Homo sapiens: one gene and its partners. The protein of the gene in region 2 purifies or fractionates together with the protein of the main gene of each other region. This does not show direct contact. Each region holds a gene or a part of one and is shown on either strand. Other genes may lie near its edges.

What was found. Proteins that work in one complex are often made in the same cells at the same time.
Region 1: the proteins of SIRT3 (region 2) and MAP2K5 purify together in Homo sapiens (pull-down; one study listed by IntAct). This does not show direct contact.
Region 3: the proteins of SIRT3 (region 2) and PITPNA purify together in Homo sapiens (pull-down; one study listed by IntAct). This does not show direct contact.
Region 4: the proteins of SIRT3 (region 2) and PGAP1 purify together in Homo sapiens (affinity purification with mass spectrometry; one study listed by BioGRID and IntAct). This does not show direct contact.

Annotation. Positions count from the first base shown.
Region 1 is NC_000015.10:67,646,124-67,650,702, reverse strand, and holds part of MAP2K5 (dual specificity mitogen-activated protein kinase kinase 5), read right to left. Parts: intron 4,473-4,579; coding exon 4,404-4,472; intron 4,316-4,403; coding exon 4,234-4,315; intron 1-4,233. UniProt on the Homo sapiens protein: Acts as a scaffold for the formation of a ternary MAP3K2/MAP3K3-MAP3K5-MAPK7 signaling complex.
Region 2 is NC_000011.10:218,100-223,757, forward strand, and holds part of SIRT3 (NAD-dependent protein deacetylase sirtuin-3, mitochondrial), read right to left. Parts: intron 1,502-5,658; exon of another isoform or gene 943-1,501; coding exon 733-942; coding exon of another isoform or gene 679-732; intron 1-678.
Region 3 is NC_000017.11:1,535,293-1,539,871, reverse strand, and holds part of PITPNA (phosphatidylinositol transfer protein alpha isoform), read left to right. Parts: intron 1-919; coding exon 920-1,003; intron 1,004-4,353; coding exon 4,354-4,431; intron 4,432-4,579. UniProt on the Homo sapiens protein: Catalyzes the transfer of phosphatidylinositol (PI) and phosphatidylcholine (PC) between membranes. Shows a preference for PI and PC containing shorter saturated or monosaturated acyl chains at the sn-1 and sn-2 positions.
Region 4 is NC_000002.12:196,832,708-196,837,286, reverse strand, and holds the end of PGAP1 (GPI inositol-deacylase), read left to right. Parts: 3' UTR 1-4,283; downstream 4,284-4,579.

The sequences.
Region 1 (4,579 bases), on a different chromosome or scaffold from region 2:
AATTACACATCATGACTAAGTGGAATAATTCCAACACTGCAAGACTGGTTCATTTTGCAAAAATCAATTAATATAGTATACCATATATTAATAGAATAAAGGACCAAATATGCACGATTATTTCAATAGATATAAAACAGGCATTTGACAAAATTTAATACCCTTTCATAATTAAAAAAAAAAAAAACTCAACAAACTAGAAATAGAAAGGAATTTCCTCAACCTGACAAAGGACAACTATTCCAAACCCATGGCTAACATCATATTTAATGGTGAAAGACTGAAAGCTCTCCCTCTAAGGTCAGGAACAAGAGAAGGATGTCTGCTCTCATCAGTCTATTCAACATTGTACTGAAGGTTCTAGCCAGGGTAATTAAGCAAGAAAAGGAAATAAAAGACATTCAGAATTGAAAAGAAAGCACTAAAACTACCTCTATTTGCAGATGGCATTATCTTGTATATAGAGAACCCTAAGGAATCCACAAAAAGCTATTAACATTAGTAAACAAGTTCAGCAAGGTTGCAGAATACAAGATCAATATACAAAAATCAATTACAGTTCTATACACTGGCAATGAACAATCCAAAAATGAAATTAAGAAAAACAGCATTAAAAAAACTTAGAAGCAAATTTAACAAATAGTTACCACTTATACCCTAAAAATTATTTTTAAATCATTGAAAAACAATTAAAGAAGACCTAAGTAAGTTGAAAGACATCTGTGTTCACGGAGTGGAAGATTAAATAATGTTAAGACAGCAATATTCCCCAAGTTGATCTAAAAATTCAATTCAATTCTTATCAAAATCCCAGCTGGATTTTTTTGGAGAAATTGCCAAGCTGATTCTAAAATTCAAATGAAAATGCTAGGTATTCAAAATGGCCAAAACAATCTTGAAAAGAACAAAGTTGGAGCACTTACACTTCTCGATTTGAAACTTAAAAACTATAATAATCCAGAGTTTTCAAGTACAAGTAATCAAATATGGTGTGGTACTGGTACAAAGATAGACAACTAGATCAATGCGAGATGTATACGCATTGATCTGAAAGTACAGAAATATATGTTATGGTCAATTTTCAACAAGTATAACAAGAAAATTCAATGGGAAAAACAGTCTTTAACAAACGGTACTGGAACAAATGTATATCTACATGCAAACGAATAAATTTGGACCCCTATCTCATACCATATATAAAAATTAACTCAAAAATAAATCAAAGGCTTAAATATAAAAGCTAAAACAATAAAACTTGAGGCTGAGGTGGGAGGATCACTTGAGCCCAGGAGTTCAAAACTAGCCTGGGCAACATAATGAGACCGCAGCTCAAAAAAAGGAAAAGAAAAGAAAAAAGAAAGTGAAAAGATAAACAATAAGTGAAAATATTTGGAAATCCCATATCTGATAAGAGCCAAGTATTAGAATACATAAAGAATTCTCACAACTCAACAATAAAAGCCCAATAACTCATTTAAAAAATAGACAAAGGATTTGAAAACATATTTCTCAAAAGAAGGTATACAAATGGCCAATAAGCACATGAAAAGATGCTCAACATCATTAGTCATTAGAGAAACCTAAATCAAAACCAAAATGGGATACCATGTCACACTACAAGCCCACAATTTTAAAAAGACACAAAATGACAAGTATTGGCAAAAATATGAAGAAAATGGAACCTTATACAGTGCTGGTATGAATGCAAAGTGGTGTAAAACAGATTGGAAAAGTTTGGTAGTTTATTAAAAAGTTAAACATAAAGCTACCATATGACCTAGCAACTTTACTCCTAGGTATATACCCAAAAGAACTGAAAACACTGACCGGGTGCAGTGGCTCACACCTGTAATCCCAGCACCTCGGGAGGCCAAGGCGGGGAGATCACGAGGTCAGGAGATCGAGACCATCCTAACACAGTGAAACTCTGTCTCTACTGAAAATACAAAACTTAGCTGGGCATGGTGGCACGCGCCTGTAGTCCCAGCTACTCGGGAGGCTGAGGCAGGAGAATCGCTTGAACCCAGGAGGTGGAGGTTGCAGTGGAGGTTGCAGTGAGCCGAGATCACCCCACTGCACTCCAGCCTAGGCGACAGAGCGAGACTCTGTTTCAAAAAAAAAAAAAGAACTGAAAACGTATGTCCACACAAAAACTTGTACACAAATATATAGAGTAGCATTATTCATAATTATGCATAAAGTAGAACTATCCCAAATGTCCATCAACTAATGAAAGAATAAACAAAATGTAGTATAGCCATACAACGAAATGTTATTCAGCAATAAAAAGGAATGAAGTTCTCATATATGCAATAGTATGGATGAACACTGAAAACATTATACTAAGTAAAGGAAGCCAGACACAAAGGCCATATATTATCAGATTCCATTTATATGGAATGTCCAGAATAGGTAAATCCATAGAGACAGAAGATAAATCAGTGGTTGCCAAGGACTTGAGGAAAGAGAAAGTAGAGAGTGAGTACTAATAGGTAGGAAGTCTCTTTCTGGGGGTGGTAAAAAGTGTTTTGGAATTATACAGTGGTGATGACTACACAACCTTGTGAGTATATCAAAAACCATGGAATTGTACACTTTTAAAGGGTGAATTTTATGGTATCTGAGTTATATTTCAATAAAAAATTTTAATTTATTTGTTTTTTGATACAGGGTCTCACTCTGTTGCCTAGACTGGAGTGCAGTGGCACGATCACAGCTCACTACAGGCTTAATCTCCTGGGCTCAAGCAATCCTCCCACCTCAGCCCCCAGAGTAACTGAGACTACAGGCCCGTACCACCATGCTTAGCTAATTTTCCTTTTTTTATTTTTTTTAAGACAGAGTCTCACTTTGTCACCCAGGGTGGAGTGCAGTGGCGCGATCTTGGTTCACTGCAACCTCCACCTCCCAGGTTCAAGCAATTCTCAGTCTCAGCCTCCCAAGTAGCTGAGACTACAGGTATGCGCTACCACACCTGGCTAATTTTTGTATTTTCTATAGAGACGGGTTTTCGCCATGTTGGTTAGGCTGGTCTCAAACTCCGCTTGCCTCGGCCTCCCAAAGTGCTAGGATTACAGGAGTAAGCCACCGTGCCCGGCCATATTTTTAAAAATTTTTTTGTAAAGATGAGATCTCACTATATTGCTTATGCTGGTCTCAAACTCCTGGGCTCAAGCAATCTTCCCACCTTAGTCTCCCAAAGTGCTGGGATTACATGCGTGAACCACCGTGCCCTGTTTCAACAAAAATGTTTGAGTAGAACTGAAAAATTGAAGACTTCAAAGAAAGAATGATAAAAGTTACAACACAGTAACATGTACTGGCTCAATGAATCCACTTTTTCTGGTCAGTCTCCACAGTTACCATACTTACCTATATGGCTGTAAGATTTTTAATTTTTGACATTCTACTATAACTAATTTAGAGCATGTTGTACACCTTATGACAGTATCAAGGTACCAATGTTGGCTCATTAAAGTTTTGCAGGGCACAAACTAATTGCTTTAGTAATGTACTGAGAATCTCCACAAGGAACTAACAATATTTTCTTAAGTTGTGTTTTAATGGACTAGACTATGGAAAACTGAATATGTAAAATTTAAAGACTGCTTAGATTTAAAATTGGTAAATAATAATAATGATGACATCATTTCACTGATATGTCCCTAGAAATCTGTATTTTGCCGTAATATTCAGGTCAAGAAAGAACTACCAAAATAGAAATGAATAAAAAAATAGAGAGGGAAGGAAAGGGCTAAAGTCCAAAGAAAATTAAACACATCTTGGCTAAACAGCTGTGTTGAAAAACAATTTCTTATCTTGCAATTAAGAACCGATTTCTTTCTGAAAGACACAGGACATTGGGTTAATAGATTTCTTTAAAAGAAAATCTGTTTTGGCTATTGAAACATTAAAAGAACAGAACATCTGTTTTGCAAGTAAAGACAGATTGTGCAAAAGAATCAAATATCAAACCACCAATTAGACTAGCATTTAATCTGTTCTATTTAAATTTTCAATAAAAGTGAAGTTCAATTCTTAAAATTACAGTTCGGCTATAAATATTTAACCCCAGGAACCCCTAACACTGAAATAATCTTAGAGTATAAATGAGGTAATTATTAGCATATTTTATTATCTTTAATTCTATTTGATATCTATATCAAAACCAGGTTTTAAAGCACTATATACTCTAAAAATCATTTTAAAAGTATTATAAAAGGGAAAACTCACCATCCATGAATTCTGTACATATTGAAATCCTGTTTTCTACAAAAAATGCTCCATAAAATCCAATGATATATGATGAATCGCACTGTAACAAAAATAAGACAAAAGTAGTTATAAACCTGCAAGTCAATACCATAGGCATGCTTTACAAATAAAAATTATGAAAAAATTACCTTATAAAGAATTTCCAATTCAGACATAATTTGCTTCTGAAGTTCCAGTGTAATATCTAGTAGTATGACCTAAATATAGAAAGGTATTAATATTTTTTAATCTTCTAATTATATTAGTTATAATCACTATGAAATATAAGAACTAAAAACATGGTAGTTCCTTTATTCTTCCCCAC
Region 2 (5,658 bases):
TTTATAAATTACCCAGTCTCAGGTATGCCTTTATGAGCAGCCAGAGAACAGACTAATACACTGGTGAAATCCCCTTTGGACAGTGTTACACCTGCCTGTAATCATGACACTGGACTTTAAATGCTTAATGCTACCACCTCCCATTGAAAACCCTTAATATCAAGGCTACACATGCTACATGATTCTTATGGGAAACTGCATTTTCTGTAACTTCACTTGTTTATAGGCGGTTTGAAATCTCTTAGAAAGCATCAAGGCTCTTTGGCTTTCCTCAGCGGATTATAATTGATCAATGGCTCTCATACCAATTACTTCCGAAAAGCATCACTCATGTAGCCTTCATCCCACATAGATGCAGAGAACTTTAGCTTCTCAAAGTTCTTTAACCCGTATCATCTTAGAATCACATACCAGGCCTTAGAGGGACACTGTTGGCTGCTTTATTTTAGGGAGTGAAGGTAACGCCTATAGTCTGTTAAGAATACAGACTCATCAGCCCTGAGTGTCTGGACCGTGTCCCTGCTTGGCCTGTTAGCATCTGTTTCCTCATCTCTAAATGGAGGTATTGAAAGTAACACCCAGTCAGGTCCAGGTAGTGCCTGGTGCAGGATTCACAGCATCATCAGCTATTACTGTTACTGTGTTAACCAACGGGGCTCCATATCAGGTGGACCATACCCTAGAGCAGTGAGAAGGGCAGCCCCTTGGATGGTCCTCCTCAGCAGTCTGTACCTTCCCAGTTTCCCGCTGCACAAGGTCCCGCATCTCTTCTGTCCAGCCCAGAAGCTCCACTAGGCTTTCCACGCCGTGAACCACGTCCCCCAGCTGGGCCACGTCCCTGCTGCGAGGATGCCAAGCCAAGGGCCCCACCAAGTCCCGGTTGATGAGCAGTCGGGGAACTGAGCTCCGCACGGCCTCGGTCAAGCTGGCAAAAGGCTCCACCTGAAAAATGGGCCAAACGTGAGGGGCACAGTGTCCACTTTACAAGCTCCTCAGGATGTTTCATGCCACAGCCACCGAGGCCTTGGAGGAGCAGCAGATTGGCAGTCAGAGCCTGCGATATAGGGAAAACCCACCACCAATCTCATTTCTTCAGCTGAGCTCCTGCCGCTTGGCCTCCGTGACGGTTTTCTCCCCTCCGCCTCTCTCTCTCTCTCCCACTTCTTGCTGTTTCCACACATCCTTGCTTTTCCCCACCTCCGTTCCAAGGCTCATCAGGGATCCAACCTTCCTGCCTCCTCTTTGTGAGCACGTTCTGTTCTCCCTGTCCTCCCCACCTCGCTGTCTCCCAGCATGACGCAGAGGGACAACAGCACAGACTCGTCCATCTCCTCTGGCTAGCCCTGCTTGCTCTGACAGCCACCACCAGCATCGGGCACCCAGACGAGCTGGTGCCCCCGAGCAGGAGTTACTGTTACGTCTCTCCATGGTCTTCCCCACCCAGCCTCTAGAGAGGCCTAGCTCGGTGCCATCAGGCTTCTTCATACAGCTCTCAAAGCTTCTTTTAAGAGGAACAAGGTAAAAAAATGGATACATTAATAAATGGCATTAAAACTGGCTCATTATCTGGGAGGAAAATACTCCATTCCTACCTCCCACTGAAAAAAATTCAAATGGATTAAAGGTTTCAATGTAAACAAAACAGTTCTTGAAGAAAACTAAGGATTTACAAGTAAGGATAGGGAAGAACGTTCTAGGCGTAAAAACTGAAGTCAGATAAGGCAAAGGAAAATGACAGATCTGACTATGTAAATACTATTATCTCGGTATCTACATAAAACTACTATGTAGAAAATTTAAAATTTTTAAAAACCTCTCATCATCATAAACTGCAAAAATATTTACAACATATGACAATAGTTTATATTGCTAATTGATAAACTCATTTATAAACATATAATTTATGAACTAATTTATAATGCTAATTTATAATGAAATTTATATTAACAGCTGGGCATGGTGGTTCACACCTATAATCCCAGCACTTTGGGAGGCCGAGGCGGGCAGATCAGCTGAGGTCAGGAGTTCAAGACCAGCCTGGCCAACATAGTGAAACCACGTCTCTACTAAAAATACAAAACTTAGCTGGGCGTGGTGGCACGCACCTATAATCCGAGCTACTCGGGAGGTTGAGGCAGGAGAATGGCTTGAGCCTGGGAGGTGGAGGTTGCAGTGAGCCGAGATCGCGCCACTGAACCTCCAGCCTGGGAGACAGAGCAAGACTCTGTCTCAAAAAAAAAAAAAAAAAAAAGAAAGAAGTTTATATTAACATTAAAATGTAATTATATTATTTAATTTATACTAAAATTAAAACTAATTTATATTGCTAATTTATAATGACCCAATGAAAAATGGTCAAGAGGTACAAATATACAATCCAAAGAGAAGAAACACAACTGGCAATAAACATGAAAAGATGAACTTCATTCTTTACTACAGAAAGGCAAAATCCGCACCCCCCTCCACACACACACATGCATTTTTTAACCAATTTGATTTGTGTGATTTTGGTTTTGGTGAGGATGTGATAAAATGGCTACATAAAAACACAGTTTGTGGCAGTGTAATTGTTACATCTTTCTGGAAGGCAAGTTCTCAATATTTATCAGCATTTACCCTTCAGGAGTTCTTGCATGGGTAGATAAGGATGATACACAGGGATATTCACCACAGCATTTACCCTTCAGGAGTACTTGCATGGGTAGATAAGGATGACACACAGGGATATTCACCGGAAGGCAAGTTCTCAGTATTTATCAGCATTTACCCTTCCAGAGTACTTGCATGGGTAGATAAGGATGATACACAGGGATATTCACTACAGCATTTACCCTTCAGGAGTACTTGCATGGGTAGATAAGGATGACACACAGGGATATTCACCGGAAGGCAAGTTCTCAGTATTTATCAGCATTTACCCTTCCAGAGTACTTGCATGGGTAGATAAGGATGATACACAGGGATATTCACTACAGCATTTACCCTTCAGGAGTACTTGCATGAGTAGATAAGGATGATACACAGGGATATTCACTACAGCACGGGATCTCATTCTGTTACCCAGGCTGGAATGCAGTGGCATGATCATAGTTCACTATAACCTCAAATTCCTGGGCTCAAGCAATCCTCCTTCCTCAGCCTCTCAAATAGCTGCAACTACACAGACCATGCCTGGCTATCTTTTTATTTTTTGTAGAGACGAGGTCTGACTATACTGCCCAGGCTGGTCTCAAATGCCTAGCTTCAGGCAATCTTCCTGCCTTGGCCTCCCAGAGTGCTGGGATAACAGGTGTGAGCCACGGTGCCTGGCCCAGCATTACTTTTAATGTAAAAATTATATACTATTTATTATCATTGTCCATCAGTAAGAAATTGCTTACATAAATTTTGTATTAAATCCACAAAATCTATGTTAAAGCTCTTGTGGCTGAATATGTTTCAGAATTTTTGAGATTTTAGAAAAGATCATATGGTTTACATCCCACGTTATGTCACACCTAAAGGGGATCTGGAGTGGTACTCCACAGTCAAACACATTAACATTTCGTCCACAAAGCACATGAGATAGAGTCTGTGCGTGACACCAGCTCATTCAGTTCATGATGGCACCAGCCTTACAGACATGGGTTTCTCAGTTGGGACCTCATATCCGTGTAAGGGAAACTGTTGGCATTAACAACGCAGCACATCTCCATGGACTCACATTGTTACGTGAAAACAGCAGGCTGCAGAATAGAATGTACAGTGCTGTCCAACTTTTAGTTTAAAATTACCATCTGTACGTATGCATTTGTACAAAAAAAAGAAAGCTGAGAGGACACAGAATAAAATGCTAACAGTTGGTGGGATTAAAAAGTTGATCCTTTGCTTTATATCTTTATATAATGTACGAATCTTTTCAAAGACACACATGATACACTTATAATCAGGAAAAAGGCCATTTTCATTTCACTTCAACAATAAAGATGGCTGGTGGCCCAAGTGTCCACACCTGGTGGCCAGCACGGTCAGCTGGTCTCAGCCCACACTGTGCTGACCACCATGGCCCCTCTGACTGCTCCTCCTGTGTCTGTCCCTCCATCCTAGGCCTAGCATGGCATTCTCATGTCTGTCCACACCCTGGGCTCTCCTGTCTGCTCACTCCAGCACCCCAGCTCCTGCCTCTGGGCCTTCCTGGACTCCAGACTCATGTCCACCTGCTCAACACCTCCAGTCCGCAGCACATCCTCAAATCCGTGGAAACAAGGCTGAGTTCCTGAGCTCCCCCAAACCCACCTACCAGGCTTCTCCATCTCAGGAAGCGGCGGCTCCGTCTTTCCAGCTGCTCCAGCCACAGCCCTGGGGTCCTTGGGAATCCACGGCCTCCCATGCACTGTGCCAGCGTACCCACTCTGCGTTCACACACACCCAGACTCCAGCACCCCTCAGCCTCTGCTGGCTTTACCTGGCCCCCAGCCAGTGCCAGCCGGTGATTACCTACAAGGGCCCTGCTGGGTCTGCTGCTCCCAGTCTTGCCCCCATGGTGGGCTCACAGCCCAGCACCCAACGGAGTCCTCTCAACTTCAGACTCTGGCCTGGAACCCAAGCTGAACCCATTCACCTTCTGAGGTGGCGCCAGCCTCCCATGAGATGACACTTGTGCCCCACCTTCTTCTCTGCTCCAGCCCCGTGGCCATCAATGCTGACTTCGCCCCACCCTCCTTGCTGCTTGTCACCTGTGCAGTGTCCCCTGCCAGACCCTCCTCACCTCGGTAAACTCTTAGATCCAACTCCACCTGCCTGACTTGACACTGCAGCTGGTTCCCAACCCTTCTAGCCTTTCTATCCTACTTGTTATCTTTCTCATAACATCAATCATCTCCTAACAAACTATATAACTTCTTACACTGACATCTGACCGTGTATGTCCAAAGCACTGGAGCAGGGCCCAGCACACAATGAATGCCTGAACAAACACATGCTCTGGGCCCCTGTGGCTGCCCTGGGCCCCTCTGAGCACAGGTCTTTCTGGCCCTTCTGTCCTCGGTGCCTACATCCAGTCACGCACACACTGACTTCATGGTCTCATTTCTTGCTCTCATCACAGCTTTTAGGAATTTCCTGAGCTGCAGACGCAGACGCAGAACAGCTGCTTGAACACATCCAGGGCATGTTTCCCGACACCTCAGACACACACAGAACCGAGCTGGGCATCCTCCCTCCCAAATCACGCCTCACCAGCAAGTGCCCTGACCTTACAGACCAAGCCAGACGCCTCCTTCTCACGTCCCCAAAACATCACAGACTGCGAGTCCAGTCCCCCTCCTCGCCATCCCTCAGGCGACCACAGCTCCACCTTCTCCAGGACCAGCCTCCTGGCACTGCTTGCTCCACTCTCCACTCCCCAAAGGCCTCCCTGACCCCAAGGGTGCAGCTACGTCCCCGGGCCAGTCCCTGTGGATTTATCACTCCTCCCACTGCAGCATCAGTATTCCTGATCTGACCTGGGAGGCCCTGCCCCTCCACCTCGCCCCCACACCCCCATCCTTCTCCCTTCTCCTCACACGTGGTGCCCCACCCACACCTATACCACCTCCAAAGCCCAGCAGCTTCCCACCTTCCTGTCTCCTGCACAGGCTGCTGCTCCCTCAGCCTGGAACCCCAGCTGAATCCATTCAC
Region 3 (4,579 bases), on a different chromosome or scaffold from region 2:
CCAGATACTCGGGAAGCTGAGGTAGGATAATCGCTTGAACCCGGGAGGCAGAGTTTGCAGTGAGCCGAGATCGCGCCATTGCACTCCAGCCTGGGCGTCGCAGCAAGACTCCATCTCAGACAAACAGACAATCCAGCTGGGTTCAGTGTTGTGCACCTATAGTCCCAGCTCCTCAGGAGGCTGAGACAGGAGGATCACTCAGGCCCAGCTCCTCAGGAGGCTGAGACAGGAGGATCACTCGGGCCCAGCTCCTCAGGAGGCTGTGACAGGAGGATTGCTCGGGCCCAGCTCCTCAGGAGGCTGAGACGGGAGGATCACTCGGGCCCAGCTCTTCAGGAGGCTGTAACAGGAGGATCACTCAGGCCCAGGCAGGAGACTGAGAGAGGAGGATCACTCAGGCCCAGCTCCTCAGGAGGCTGTGACAGGAGGATCACTAGGGCCCAGCTCCTCAGGAGGCTGTGACAGGAGGATCACTCGGGCCCAGCTCCTCAGGAGGCTGTGACAGGAGGATCACTCGGGCCCAGCTCCTCAGGAGACTGAGACAGGAGGATCACTCGGGCCTAGGCAGGAGGCTGAGACAGTAGGATCCCTCGGTCCCAGGCAGGAGGCTGAGGCAGGAGGATCACTAGGAGCCTGAGGCAGGAGGATCACTCCGGCCCAGGAGTTCATGCTAGAGTGTGCTGTGATCACTCCTGTGGATAGCCATTGCCTGAGAAACACGGTGAGACCCCATCTCTTAAAAAAAAAAATCCATTCTCCCATTTCTTTGGATAATTTTGTATGTAATTGTATAATTACTTATCATTAGGAATCTTACATCTGTGGCTATGGGAATGGCAGTTCCTAGGTGTCCATTCTGGCTAAAGGATATTTTATAACTGACAAAAACTGCATAGTGGTTCCCCACTTGTTCCCACAGGTGCATAAGCTGGAGCCTGAGGCGTGGAAACACGTGGAAGCCGTATATATAGACATTGCAGATCGAAGCCAAGTGCTCAGCAAGGTAGGATCCGTTTAAAGACGTGGGTGGCCTTCGAGACGCAGAAATGACTTCTCAATGCTAAAGAAACCAGGAAACCATACCCAACTTGGCACAAAAGGAAATTCTGATGTGTCTTGCTTGTTTTATTTTTAAAAGTGAGTATTAGGAGATTTCTTGTCTTGAGTTGGGGATGCCACCAGAAAATTAGTGGCCCAAATTTGTGTGCCCTGTTTGGCCTCTGAAAATTATTACTGGACTAAGTAGGTATTGTAGCTAGAGTATTTTGCCCTGCTAAAATGATGCTTAGCCTGAAAAATCGGAGCACCACTTCTCAAATTTATTTTTCCAACTCAGTAATTAAAAAAACATTTACTTCCTGCCTACTGGGTTGTGGAATATTGTCAGGATCTCTGGGTTCCAGGTGAGGGATGCAGAATGCAGGGAAAGACAGGTCCCCTGCCCTCCAGAAGTCGGTGGCGCCTTTTCAGAGTAACACACACTGGAGCAGACCCCTGGAAAAGGACAGTCCACTGGTGGACCATGACCTTGGTCAAAAGAGGGACCAGGTCTGGCTTGCTCACTGTTTTGCACCCAAGAAGTATTTGCTCAGGGAATGAGGGGGTTAGATTCCTCCTCATTCATTACCATTCTTACTAGGCAGAGGCCTCATTGGGATTAAAAGACAGGAATGTAACTCTCTGCCCACTGATAGGGAATGTGTGTTTGCTCTTTGTATCCCAGGGGTGTGATACCTCTTTCCTGTGGTCACTCTGCACTTAAGATATTTTGGGGCCTGGCACGGTGGCTCACGCCTGTAGTTCCAACACTTTGGGAGGCCAAGGTGACCGATCATCTGAGGTCCTGAGTTCGAGACCATCCTGCCCAACATGGTGAAACCCCATCTCTACTAAAAATACAAAAATTAGCCAGGCCTGGTGGTACGTGCCTGTAATCCCAGCTACTTGGGAGGCTGAGGCAAGAGAATCGCTTGAACCCGGGAGGCAGAGGTTGCAGTGAGCAGAGATCACACCATCGCACTCCAGCCTGGGCGACACAGCGAGACTCCATCTCACACACACACACACACAAAGTTATTTTGATTTGTGCATTTCCGAAAAGATATAAAAACCATCTTGTGCTTCCTTGCCCAATATCCCAACCCCCACCTTCAAAACGTTGGTGGATTTTTCAAAAAGCTTTTTATGGAAGTTTAACATATACAGCAAAGTGAATATAAGTATGCAGCTTGATGAATTTTCTCAAACTGGATACTAGCAAAAAGTATGATTCTTTGAGTATTTTGTCAACTCTGGTTGATCTGTGTGAGTGGAGGGAAGCAGTGATGGTGAATATTTATTTTTTAAAGCACACATAAATATAATCTCCTCAGAGGCTGGGCACATTGGCTCACGCCTGTAATCCCAGCACTTTGGGAGACCGAGGCAGGCATATCACTTGAGGTCAGGAGTTTGAGACCAGCTTGGCCAACATGGTGAAACCCCGTCTCTACTAAAAATACAAAATTAGGGCCAGGTGCGGTGGCTCACACCTGTAATCCCGGCACTTTGGGACGCCAAGGTGGGCAGATCACGAGGTCAAGAGATCGAGACCATCCTGGCCAACATGGTGAAACCCTGTCTCTACTAAAAATACAACAGATTAGCCAGGCGTGGTGGCAGGTGCCTGTAATCCCAGCTACTTAGGAGACTGAGGCAGGAGAATCGCTTGAACCCAGGAGGCGGAGGTTGCAGTGAGCCGAGATCATGCCTTTGCACCAGCCTGGGCAAAAAGAGTGAAACTGTGTCAAAAAAAAAAAATACAAAATTAGCTGGGCGTGGTGGCGCATGCCTATAATTCCAGCTACTTGGGAGGCTGAGGCAGGAGGATCACTGGAACTCAGGAGGCGGAGGTTCCATTGAGCTGAGATTGTGCCACTGCACTTCATCCTGGGCGACAGAGCGAAACTCTATCTGAAAAAAAAAAAAAAAAAAAAAATCGGCCGGACATAGTGACTCATGCCTGTAATCCCAGCACTTTGGGAGGCTGAGGCATGTGGATCACCTGAGGTCAGGAGCTTGAGACCAGCCTGGCCAACATGGTGAAACCCCGTCTCTACAAAAATACAAAAATTACCCTGGCGTGGTCGCAGGCGCCTGTAATGCCAGCTACTCAGGAGGCTGAGGCAGGAGAATCGCTTGAACCCAGGAGGTGGAAGTTGCAGTGAGCTGAGATCGTGCCACTGCACTCCAGCCTGGCCAACAGAGTGAGATGCTGTCTCAAAAAAATAAAATAAAAAAATAAGGCAGGGCGCGGTGGCTCACGCCTGTAATCCCAGCACTGTGGGAGGCCAAGGTGGGCGGATCACGAGGTCAGGAGATCGAGACCATCCTGGCTAACACGGTGAAACCCCGTCTCTACTAAAAATACAAAAAAAATTAGCCGGGCATGGTGGCGGGCACCTGTCGTCCCAGTTGCTGGGGAGGCTGAGGCAGGAGAATGGCGTGAACTTGGGAGATGGAGCTTGCAGTGAGCCGAGATCGCGCTACTGCACTCCAGCCTGGCCAACAGAGCGAGACTCCCTCTCAAAAAAAAAAGAAAAAAAAAAAAAACTTCTCAGCTTTGGGAAATACTTTATGAGAGAGAGAAATTTATTATCTTTGTTATTTTTGTTAAGTAGATGCTATAAGTTTGTATCTCCTGAGCCCACATTAGTCAATGTAGAGGGACAGCTGAAAATTAAACTTTTGTTGTGGTTAATTAACACAGGAAATTGACTGCATTATAAATCTGTGAAGTGAGACTCACCAGTAGTGGATAGGTTCCATACACTGAACATTTCCAGTAATGATTTTGTTAAAACAAGCCAGAGGGAGATTGCACTGGAAGATTTAAGGAATGACAGCCGGGTATTCTGAGCGCTGGCTGTATTTTAGAGTCACTTGCAGAGATTTAAAAAAACAAAAAACAAATCTGTGCTGCCGTCACCTGCAGATATTCTCAGTCACTGGGTTTTAGTTGGAGTGACTCAAAAATCTGTGTTTTAAAAAGGTCTTCCCTGGTGATCTGGATGCTCACCCCAGGTTGAAAGTCTCTGTCTTCAACACGGTAAATATGTGCCTGCTCAGACAGTCTGGTGATACTTTCACACTGGCAAAATGGAAAACAAACCCTATCGGAGAAAATCACATAGAACTCTCCTCTGAGGCTAATGTAAACAGTTCTACATCTTGTTTATAACATTTTCCCATATTTGCTTTGTGCCATCAGCATCAAGATCTGGTATGGAGTGAATGCTAATGAAAGATCTGTTCTCCCCATCTCTCACTCCCTCTCCCACTCCCCTCCAACCCCAATTCCACAATTTCTCTCAGGATTACAAGGCAGAGGAAGACCCAGCAAAATTTAAATCTATCAAAACAGGCCGAGGACCCTTGGGCCCCAATTGGAAGGTACCATTCACACCTTCACTGCCAGGGGGCTGGGCAGCATGTGGGTGGGCCGCTCCCTGTGGAGGAGGGGCATGGCTGGGGTGAGCTGGGGACGGCCTGAGGTCTGCCCGTTGTTACTTGCGTACCCATGGGTATGTTTCTAATGCAG
Region 4 (4,579 bases), on a different chromosome or scaffold from region 2:
TGCTGTTTATTAGCACCCTTTGTGGCCAAGGGAAATAAAAGGTGGTAAAATTCAGTTTTCAGTTTAGTTCTTGAAAGCTCTGGGAAATGGAGGAAACACAAAACTATGAATTAAACTAGGGCTGTTGATTTCTGAACCCCCAGATAAATCAGTTGACCCACATTTTCATTTTAGGTGTTAGGTCCAAATTAGCATAATGTCTTGCATTATTATTAGGTTCAGTGTGAAACTTTACAGTGCTGCATTTGAAGTTTAGTAACTGGTTATTATTAATCATTTGGGAAAAATGAAAATGTGTTGGGACTTTCTATGACTAGGCATTTGTTGATTATTTTTCATGATTGCTTTTTGTTTTCTCATTGTGTAGGATTTGTGAACTTGTATATTACAGGAAACAAGATACTTTGTAAAATTTACTGGGGAAAATCCATTTGGAGTGCATGACATTTGCCAGGATAAGAAAGCAGTAATATGTTTGTATTATAAAATTACACCCTGCCAGAAAACTTTCTTTCCTAGTAAGGTAAATGTAGAAGGGACTTTTACAGCATAGTAAGTTGATTAGGAGCCAAAATTTTATTCCAGTTTTTTTTTGAACTAAGAATGTTTTAAATTCTGTAATGAACTTTTATGTTTACCCATTACTCATGCATTCTTTCACAATATGTTTAATAGCCTGAGGAAATAGGAAAGCTGTGAAGCTACTACCATTCTTTACTTTTAATAAGAATAATAGGAAAGAAAAGTCAGGTCAGTAATCCAAATCCAAATATGTATACTGCAAATGCTCAAGAAGTCACATTTTTTGATAAATTGTATTGAGTACAGAAGAACTTATATGAATTTATTATCTGTTAATAACTTAGTTTTGACAACAGAATAACATTTGGAAATTGTGAGAATAATCAAGCTGTTTTTCCATTAACAGTGTAAATTCATAACATGTCCTTCAAAAGGTGATATTCTAAGCTGTCTTAATTGTCTACGGTTGATAACTTTTAAATAAAGTACAGGACTTTCTGAAAGTGTTTGGCATGTTATGCTGCCAAAAACAATCTGTGTTTTGAAATACCAATTAATCAGTTAATTTCTGAAGACTTTGTATAGGACTTGATATATGAGTCAGAATCTGTCTGTACTCATTCTGTACATTGTAACTTTGAACACTTATGAAAAACTGTATCTGTTGGTGTGTTTTGATTAGTTAGTGTAGATTTGTTTGCGTATTTGAATTCCGATTTTAGTTTAGGAAGACTAAAAGTAGCCATTTTTGTAAAGTTCATATGCTATTTTTTAATGTCATTTTTGTTTTTAATATTTATACAATAGTGATGTTACTAGTAAAAAATGTTTATAGATAACACGTAGAGCTATTAACTGTTCAAAAGCCTACATGATAGGCATATTTTGTATTTCGTGTTGCACTCGTTCTGTTTCATATTGGACTTTTTACATCCCTTTTTTAGCAAAAAAAAGAGACACATTTGAATTCTCTTTAGCATAAAGCTGTGCATTGGAAACTATGTGACTGTATCCATACGGTTAGCAAAATACTCTTTGCCACCAAAGGTAAATGAAACTGTAAAATACCTCTGGATATTTGTGCCAATGAACTTTTCTTAGCATATTAGGATTAAAGCAAAAATAATCTTTTCAGTATGTTTCATCTAGGACTTACAATAAATGTTTAAACCATGAAAACTTATATTTCATACCCTAATTTTTCTTTGAAAATATTCAAGATTTGTAGCCTAGTGTGTTCTATTTTGTGTGATTGCTTGAATGTTTTCTGATTTTATTGGGTAAAAGTTTGCCTAGTAATGATCTTTCAGCAATTCATTGAAATAATTATTTGAAGTAATCTTGCTTCAGATTTAATTTGTGATGTACATTGTTGTACAAGCCATTTTAGTACAGGTGTCTCATTTATGTAGTTGAAAGGTGACTGTGGAATTTCTTTTGTTTTTTATGTATTTCCATTCAGTCTCTTTATATAGTCACATGTTTCACAGGGGAACTTGTCCACTGGAACCTAACATAGTACAACCTTTTAATATGCGTATCTTAAAGGAAAATATTATAAAACAAGATATTAATACTAAAGTGTTAACATTAATATGTTGTTCTCATGGAAGAAAAGTAGAAAATGTGATAGGCTTAGAAATTATTTTTTATCAGCATTAAGTGCTTCAATTTCTCCCCATAAAGATTCTAAGGAAATTTCAGTTCCTCATATTATAGTTTTCCCCATAATTTAATATTACTAAGTATTTCTCTGCCCAGTAATGTTGATGCAGTTTGCATAAATAGCCTTGGAAGTAAGGAGGCAGGACAGAAAGCCAAATATCGAAATCTCTGGCCTTGATTTAGTGACAGTTTATTCTAATGGGGACCATAGGTGTTATTAGTAAAAAGATAGTGTACAAGGCCTAAGTTCAGTTTACATTGTTCTTTGAAATGAGTTCATCTTTTGTGTTGAATAATTGTATTCTAAGTAGGAGATGCCTGTATTTAACATAATCATGCTTTCTATATAATCAAATATGTATTTGTTGGAATACTGGTAGAAATAACCTTCCCTTCCTCCACTGTGCAGTGGAAAAAAAACTCCCGATTTATACTGTATATAAATTAGGAAATTATGTTACATATTTACATTTTTAAAAATATAAAAATGACATATTATTTTGAAGTGATTGTATTATAGTTTCTGAAGCTTATGACTGGCTATAAATATAACAACATACCCATGAGAAACCAGACCAAAATTGAATATATATCATCACTGTGACCTTGAACTTATAGTCATTTGGGATAAAACAGAGTGTGCCTTGAAATGATAAAGAGTGCCCTGCAATTTTATAACTGTACATTTTATTATGGGTGGTCCTCTCAAATTGGCCCCAAATCCTTGTCTTCGAGGTTGGTGAAATAAAAGTTTAAAATAAAAGTTGACTGGTATTTCCTTTAGTATTTCCAGAACTATTGCTGTAGAGGCCTCCCTTAATTTTCAGAGTTCTCATTTTGAATTAAAGTAGACTTACGCTACATAGATGTAGAAAATTAGGTTTGGCTTAGGTTTCTGAAAAAATATTCTAGGAGAAGGTGGTAGCATTGTTCTGAACTTACCACACTTGGAAAAACTAATCTTCAAATGTAATTTTTTGTCTTATTAATGAGTAATCTGTCAAAGACATGAATTCTTTGACTTGTGCTCATTCTTTCTGAACTTATTGAGGCTTATATATATCAAATAAGGTTAATTTACACAATAATTATTTTTAATAATTAATAAACTCATTCATGTAGTATATTTTAAAACATTATTTCCTCTCATTTTTCCTTCTCTTTTTTCTTCCTATATATTTTTAAGGCTTCAAGAGAAAACGGGCTTCAGTTTTTAAAAAAATGTAGACTTGCATTTTTACTGTGCTTATTTAAAATAATGGATATAATTTATATTAAGGTCCAAATTATTTTATTCACAGGATAATCATGGTCTCTGATAAAAGATGCCCACATTTCTGTGTACTCACAGTTGTTGTATATTTTTCAATTTCAATTTTGAAAGTAAACTCAACACATTGTTTTCCCATTTTACCTCCACTACCTACTCGCCAGACAAAAATATAGATTTCTCTAAAAACACATACAAAGAAAATGTCTTTCCTTAAAACATGATCTTATTGACATGAAGGTAGTTTGAGCAAGGGTATGTAATAAAATAAATGGCTCTCAACCTGCATCAATTTTTATACTATAGTTAAAAAATTTATAGAGGACAACCTATGTGTTATGCTGAGATAGACTCAGTAATCATTTGTTTGCAAATTGATTATTTTTTTCTCATCCATCCAGAAAGTACAGTGCATAACAACAACACTTAACAAGTGCAGAGGAACCTGTCCTGTAGTATATAATAAAAAATGATTGTCACCTTGCTGATCTTTCCATTTAAACATGCATGATCTCCAGTACTTTGTACAATGTATAGTATATTAAATACATTTATGTGTAATTTTGTGTGTATTTTTATATGGTATAATTAAAATTATTACATTTATGTGATTGTAATTCACAAAAAGTACTACTTACTATATTCTGTAGAGTGTGTTGTGAATGTTTTTACCTGTGTTTGAGCATTATGGTGTAGGTTTAATAGATGAATATTTGCCTTCAGTCTCTGCTCAGGTATTAATGTGTAGTAATTTTTGGTGCTTTCTTTTTAATCTGTGATAATCTGGTGTTCTGAATGTTCAAAAATAAATTTGGTTGAATACGCACATGGTAAAAAGATTGCTTACCAATTGACATACTCTCTATAATACCATCTTGGTAAAAACTCTTTAAAAAGGATTTATTGGCCGGGCGTGGTGGTTTATGCCTGTAATCCCAGCACTTTGGGAGGCCAAGGCGGGCAGATCACGAGGTCAGGAGATTGAGACCATCCCGGCTAACACGGTGAAACCCCGTCTCTACTAAAAAAAAAAAAAAAAAAAAAAAAAAAAAAATTAGCCAGGCATGGTAGCGGGTGCCTGTAGTCCCAGCTACACAGGAGGCTGAGGCGGGGTAATGGCGT